Linked DNA regions of Homo sapiens. The protein of the gene in region 2 interacts with the protein of the main gene of each other region in a pairwise test. Each region holds a gene or a part of one and is shown on either strand. Other genes may lie near its edges.

The links.
Region 1: the proteins of IFT140 (region 2) and RANBP2 interact in a two-hybrid assay, tested with the Homo sapiens proteins (one large-scale study listed by BioGRID and IntAct).

What each region holds. Positions count from the first base shown.
Region 1 is NC_000002.12:108,764,362-108,768,177, reverse strand, and holds part of RANBP2 (E3 SUMO-protein ligase RanBP2), read right to left. Parts: coding exon 1-3,816. UniProt on the Homo sapiens protein: E3 SUMO-protein ligase which facilitates SUMO1 and SUMO2 conjugation by UBE2I. Involved in transport factor (Ran-GTP, karyopherin)-mediated protein import via the F-G repeat-containing domain which acts as a docking site for substrates.
Region 2 is NC_000016.10:1,581,045-1,584,860, forward strand, and holds part of IFT140 (intraflagellar transport protein 140 homolog), read right to left. Parts: intron 3,377-3,816; coding exon 3,173-3,376; intron 2,343-3,172; coding exon 2,270-2,342; intron 1-2,269. UniProt on the Homo sapiens protein: Component of the IFT complex A (IFT-A), a complex required for retrograde ciliary transport and entry into cilia of G protein-coupled receptors (GPCRs).

The DNA.
Region 1 (3,816 bases), on a different chromosome or scaffold from region 2:
TCCAAACAAAGACCCAGTGGCTGAACTGTTGCCGAATGCAAATGGTTTTGATTTTTCACTACTAAAAATGCTTTTAACAGACTCTGAACCAAATACAAACTTTGGAGGAGAAACCACTGCTTTTGGTGTTGTTTCAGATGTGCTAGACACTTCAACTTCTGAAGTTGCATCTGCTACATCATCACCCTGAATAACATCTGTCCTCTCTCTTGTGGTTTCTTCTAATACAGCTACAGCAATTTTGCCACATGGTGACTCTCTGGGAGTGCTTGACCGAGAAACATGAGGTGTTATCAAAGAATCTTTTTCCTGGGCTGTTTTTGCTTCATCAAAAATTTTCTTAAACGAGTCTGCAACATCCTGTAGTTTAAAACGAACAGCTAAATGCTCTACTTTTCTTTCTCCATCTGCAAAATCACATGCAGTCCACAACCATACTCTTTCTGTCCCTTTCATATTTTGCAAAGTCATGTCTGGAGTTATTCTGTGATTGGCACAAAGTTTTAATACTTGGTCCCTTCTCATCACTATACGAACTTGCTTATTATCATAATTCTGTAAAATCTTTATATCACCAATGCCCCTTTCTTTCCATTGACCAACATCTTTATCATATCTGTAGAGTTTTGCCCTGTGACTAAAAACAACTTGTTCATTTTCCTCACCACTGGATACTTCAACTAGATCAGGTAAAGGAACAACAGGTTCAAAGTACTGTCCATCTCTCTCTTCTTCTTGAGTAACATCAGATTCTTCATCAGTGCCAACTGAAGTCCCACTCTGATTCAACTTGGCAGGAGACTTAGATGGACTCAAAGCAGATTTAAAACTGAAGTTAAATCCTGTTGTTGACTCACCAAAACGGAAAAGATTTTTTCTCACAGGGCTACTTGCCAATGGAGAAGCATGTACTGAGCTACTACTGACACTATCATCCAAAGCATCTTCCCTTAAATCATAGTTATCCCATTCTAATGTGGGCCCAGTGTTTTCAGGATTGGGTTTTATTGTTGTGTCTGAGGCACCGGCCGCACCTGTACCTGAACCCTTATTTTCTTCCTCAGTGACTTTTGTTTGATCATTTGTCAAAAATGTTTTGAAATCTTTCAGTCCACTCTTCATTTCTTCAGCTCTCTGTATTAACTTGGCAGCTCTGCCAGTATCTACAAGTTTATGGGGAGTTTGAAGTGGTATGTCTAACAGAAGCCGCTGGCATTCCTCAAATTTCTGCTTGAATTCTTCAGCCAGCTCTGGTGTTTTAAATTTTGCTGCCAACTGCTCTAGTTTGGCATCACCATCAGAGAAATCACTGGCTAACCACATCCATGCTCTATCTGATCCAGAGAGAGGCTTCAGGTTCATCGTAGTCGTTATCCAATGATTAGCACACACTTTTAGTACTTGTTCTCTTCGCATCAGCATTCTTAGTTTGCCATTGACCTCGTTTTTGAGAATTTTTAAGTTCCCCAAGCCCCTTTCTTTCCACTGACTTACCTCAGCATCAAATCTAAATAGTTTTACCCGCTGTGAATACAGAACTTTTTCATCTTCTTCTCCTGTTACAAGTTCTACTTTTTCGGGCATTTGAACTACTGGTTCAAAATGGATGTCATCGCTGTCCTCAGTCTTATAGGCATCATCATCTTTCTCAAAGTCACCGGAAGTGTTTGCTTTATTGGCCATTTTACCGTATTGTGATGAGAATAATTTTTCTCCAGCACCTGAAAATCCCTTGAAATTGGGGTCTTTTTTGCCAAACTGAAATCCTTCTCCTGAAGTTGATTTTGCAAGATCTGCAAATGTAAAAGTGCTACTTGTTTGGCCAAAAATCACACCACGGCCATTCTTCTGGCCACTAATATCCTGAGCCTGGAAGCCAGTACCATTTTCAAGAGGCTTTTCACTTTTCTTTTCTTGATTTCCTGGTTCCGAAATGCCAAATTTAAATCCATCAGCAGACACAGGGATGGAAAATCCTTCTTTGGTTGACTTAAATTCTGTATTAGAAGAACCCTGAAACATAAATGAAGGTGAATTTTCTTGATCCACATGCCCAAATTTGAATCCTTGCTCTGTATTGCCAAACTTAGAAGCTTTTTCTGAGAAATTACTTTTAAATCCTGTTCCCACCTGACTTCCAGAAGAGTCATGCAACTTCATTTCTGAGCCCAGTGTGAAAGCTGAAGGAGCTTCTGCAATAGGTTTATGAGTTGGTTTAGAGGCATCACAAGCCACACATTTTAAGGAAGAACTCTCATTTTGTACACAGCAAACACTACAATCCCACTGTCCTTTCCTGATGAACATTCCTTCAAATCCACTCTTTGGAGCCTTGCTTATCTCCGAAGAGGCAGGTGTTGAAATTGCAGTTGTTTGATTTTGTTTACTTGGACACTGACAAGCAATACATTTGGTAGCACTGGCTTCATTTCTTACTAAGCACACACTGCAATCCCACTGTCCTTCCTTCTTAGTGAACATTCCCTCAAATCCGCTCTTTGGAGCCTTGCTTGTCTCTGAAGAGGCAGGTGTTGAAACTGCAGAAGTAGTTTGATTTTGTTTACCTGGATTCTGACAAGCAATACATTTGGTAGCACTGGCTTCATTTCTTACTAAGCACACACTGCAATCCCACTGTCCCTCCTTCTTAGTGAACATTCCCTCAAATCCGCTCTTTGGAGCCTTGCTTGTCTCTGAAGAGGCAGGTGTTGAAACTGCAGAAGTAGTTTGATTTTGTTTACCTGGATTCTGACAAGCAATACATTTGGTAGCACTGGCTTCATTTCTTACTAAGCACACACTGCAATCCCACTGTCCCTCCTTCTTAGTGAACATTCCCTCAAATCCGCTCTTTGGAGCCTTGCTTGTCTCTGAAGTACCAAACTTAAAAGAGGCAGGAGCTGGAACAGAAGTAGATGGACTTGGTTTATCCGGATTCTGACAAGCAACACATCTTGTAGCATTTGCTTCATTTCGCACTAAGCATGAACTGCAATCCCACTGTCCTTCCTTCTTAGCAAACATGTCTTCAAATCCACTTTTTAGAGTTTTACTTGTCTCTGAAGTACCAAACTTAAAAGAGGCAGGTGTTGGAATAGAAGTAGCAGGTAGACTCTGTTTTCTCGGATTCTGACAAGCAGCACATTTTGTAGAGCTCCCCTCATTTTGTACCAAACATGCACTGCAATCCCACTGTCCTTCCTTTGTAGAAAAAACAGATCTGAAATCACTGTTAATAGGTTTAGGAAGATCTCCCTGGCCAAATTTAAATGAAGCTTGATGAACAAATGAAGATCCACTTTTGTTAGCAGATTTTGTATTCTGACACGCAATGCACCTAGATACAGTAGGTTCATTTCTTACTAAACAAATACTACAATCCCAGTGACCTTCTTTCTTTGGAGTCACCAATGCAAATCGATCTTGAACATTCTCTGGGCTGGTTTTAGGAGTAAAAACAGTTTCAGCTAATGGTGGGCCAACGAGCTCTTTATTGCTTGGGTTTAGATTTTGGCATGATACACATTTCTTAGCAGTTGAAGCATTCTTTAATGAGCAGCTGTTACAATGCCACCAAGACCCTTCTTTCTTTGCAACCTGAAATTCAAAATTCAGGTTTCCAGCATCAGATTTGCAAATATCCTTGTTATCATGACTTGTGGGTTCTTTTACAATTCTGACAGCCTGATTTGACGCCATGGCTACATTTGTTCCTGGGGCTTTTAAAATGCTCTGGGCTTCTTCAAACTTGCATTTAAAAAGTGCTGCTTCCTCAGGAGTTTTGAACCTAATAGCAAGTTGTTCTGGTTTTGGCAA
Region 2 (3,816 bases):
AGTGGCAGTGCGTGCGGGTCCTGGGCTGATGTGGAGACTCCATGCTGGGCTCTGGGCTCCCTGCCCTTCACCCCTCCCATCTGGCAGCTGGTGCTCCCAGCAGCACAGCATCTATGACAACACACCCAGTTAAGCAAATGTTTGCTCATTTTAGGTGGAACTCTGGTGGCCACAAGCCCTGGTCCCTGGACCTAACTATTAGGGTTGGTGCAAAAGCAGTTTTTGCCATCAACCACAATTACTTTTGCAGCAACATAATAGATAAGAATCTAGAGGCGGGCCTGGTGGCTCACACCTGTAATCCCAGCATTTAGGGAGGCTGAAGCAGGTGGATCACATGAGGTCAGGAGTTTGAAACCAGCCTGGCCAACATCGTGGAATGTTGTCTCTACTAAAAATACAAAAATTGGCCAGGTGTTGTGGTGCATGCCTGTAATCCCACCTACTTGGGAGGCTGAGGCATGAGAATCGCTTGAGCCCAGGAGATGGAGGCTGCAGTGAGCCGCCATCACACCACTGCACTCCAGCCTGGGTGACACAGCAAGACTGTCTCAGAAAGAATCTAGTTAGGGAGATGATAATATACACAAAACAAAAAATATCCCAGCACCTGCTGTGTTGGTTCTACTGGGGGAAATAAGAAGTTCACCCTTGCTCCTAGGGAGTCTACAGAGGAGAGGGGAGGGGAGGAGCGGGGGAGGGGAGGGGAGCGGGGGGTGGGGAGGGGAGGGGAGCGGAGGGGAGGGGAGGGGAGTGGAGGGGATGGGAGTGGAGGGGAGGGGAGGAGAGGGGATGTGAAGTGTCGGTACAATCCTGGACAGAGTGTGAAAAATGTTATGAGAGAACTTTAAGCAACAAAGTGTTAGCAGAGAAAAAAAAATGTGGGAAAGATCTGAGGGAGAGGCGGAAACTAGTGATGGATGTGCCTGAAGAGGTGGGGGCGTTCAAACACACGAGGGGGCAACCGCCCTGGGAAGAGCATGACACGCGGCCTCCTGTGTGGGCAGGCGGCTGAGGGGCAGGGTTGGTGAAGGTGATAACTGTGGAATGGGGGGAGCTGAGCTGCACATCCTGGTGGCGGGGCCACTGCAATGGGCTGGGAAAGGTTCCCTAAAGATGCCAGGTCCTGCTCCCTGGCATGTGTGAATATTACTTTATATGGCAGAAGATGGTAAGGTCTTGGGATGGGGAGATTATACTGAGTTATCCAGGTAGGCCCTAAATACACTCACGAGTGTCCCTGTAAGAGGGAGGGAGGCAGATTTCAGACCAGGGGCAATGTGACCAGAGAGACAGAGACTGGAGGTTTGTGACCACAAGCCAAAGACTGCTGGCAGCCACCAGAAGCTGAAACGGGTTCTCCCCTGGGGCTGCAGAGGAAGCGTGGCCCTGCTGACGCGATCACTTCTGTCCAGTGAAAAGTGAAACTGATTTGGGACCTCTGGCCTCCAGAACTATGGGAGAATACATTTCCCACATCTTTGTCTGAAGCCACCAAGTTTGTGGTCCTTTGCTACAGCTGCCTCAGGAAACTCCCATAGATGTGCTGAAGAGAGCAGGAAGAAAACAATGGCCAAGGCCGGGCGCGGAGGCGCACGCCTGTAATCACACCACTTTGGGAGGCCGAGGCAGGCAAATCACCTGAGGTCAGGAGTTCGAGACCAGCCTGGCCAACATGTTGAAACCCCGTCTCTACTAAAATATAAAAATTAGCCGGGTGTGGTGGCACGCACCTGTAATCCCAGCTACTGGGGAGACTGAGGCAGGACAACTGCTTGAGCCCGGGAGGCGGAGGGTGCAGTGAGGTGAGATTGCACCACTGCACTCCAGCCTGGGCAACAATGGCAAAACTAACCGCAGAGAGCTGGAGAGATCTTGGGGACCTAGAAGGGTGTTTGAGATTAACGGAGCATGTCTGAGGAGCCACCTTGAAGTTTCAGACAGAGGCTGGCCTTGGGTCAAGACACCACAGGTCTCACTGCTGTGCATGGTCTGGAAACATTTCAGAAGATGGGAGGCAGCCACCTCCTCCCTGGAAGGAACCCCACAAAAGCACGGTGGTTGTTTACGCCCACACAGCAGGCCCCAGGATGCACTGGCAGCACGGGGCCACAGCTGCAGCCCTGGCTCTGGAAGCGCAGGCAGTAGCACAAGGGTCTCCCCAGCCCCTGTGCCAGCCCTCAACTGCACCACAGTGGCCCTCTCATTAGGCAGGGAGGAAATAAAGCCAGGTAGTGGGAGTGCCTCTGTCCGGGTGAAAAGAACCCACCTGCACTCCGTATCGCGGCTCCAGAAAGCTCGAAGATCGCCACCTGCCTTCCGTTCCAGACTGCGACAGCATCCTGAAAAGAACCACGGACATTCGAGGCAAAGGGCGGGAAAAGTGAGGTGCAACTGTACACCCCACTGCACACCTCGAAAGCCTCCTCTAAACACTTCTGAACACTGCTGCTCCATCATCCTACGACTATGAGATCACTGGGTCCTCTGTGGACAGGCTGAGGCTGTTTTCCGTGTTATATAAGATATCCATGGGTTTTATTATGATTCTTTTCTGTTTTTTTTTTTCTTTTTTTTTTAGGTTTGGGGAATGGCAAAGAAAGTATCCCTCTCTTTCCTTTATTTACTTTTTAAATTTATTGTTTAACTGACATTTTTTTTAATTTATAAGGGTACATGGCAGGTGTATATATTTTTTATTATTATGTTCTTTTTTTTGAGACATGGTCTCACTCTGTCGTCCAGGCTGGAGTGCAGTGGCACGATCTCAGCTCACAGCAACCTCCACCTCCTGGGTTCAAGCGATTCTCCTGCCTCAGCCTCCCAGGTAGCTGGGATTACAGGCATACACCCCGACGCCTGGCTAATTTTTGTATTTTGGAGTTTTAGCATCTTGGCCAGGCTGGTCTCGAACTCCTGACCTCAAGTGATCTGCCCACCTCAGCCTCCCAAAGCGCTGGGATTACAGGCGTCAGCCACCGTGCCTGGCCTATATTCTTATTACGATTTTCTTTATGAATATAATGTACATGGATATCCAGGAAATAAGAGAATCTAGGATGGAACTGAGAGTGGCCTAACCTGCCATCTGGGGCCCTTGCTGCCCTGAACTACCTGGCCATGGGGCAGTTCTTCTGTCTGTGTCCCACCCACGGGTCCCCTCGGCAGTCACCTTGGTGGCAAACACTCCACTGATGTGCATGTCGGTGCGCAGGCTGTGTGCGACCCCCGTGGACAGGAAGCACACATTCAGCAGACTCGGGGAGACCTGCATGGCGGCCACTTGCTGGTGGAAGTGTGACGACATGGCCCGCTCGCTGAGGATGGCCACGGAGATGACGCTGTTCACTGCCAGCAGGTTCTTCCTGGAACCCCACTTCATTTCCAGGTTGCAAGAGAAAGAACCAGATGTGTGAACAGAGCAGGAGAAAGATGCGGTCAGGAGAATACTTACACACACGAGAACTCAGAAACCATTTCCAAGTACCATTGTTCCGGACTTAAAAAATGATCTTATAAGACATTATAAGAAAAGTCTTATAAAGGTAAAGAGTATGCTGTGTAGAAAGACTTCAAGATACTGATGCTCAAGGGTTGTGATTGGACAGGCAGCACTGGTATGTCTGTTCTGATGGGAAGAGCGTTTTCTAGAGTTTTTCTGAGTGGGACACACTTTTCTGAGTGTGACATAGGGATGTTTATGTTTTTTATAAACAGACAGGAAGTTTACATAATGGATTAAATTATCCAGCTTTCTTCTGCTGATGTGAAATGTTGGTTTCATAATTTTATATTAAACTTCTAAATCTATCTAAA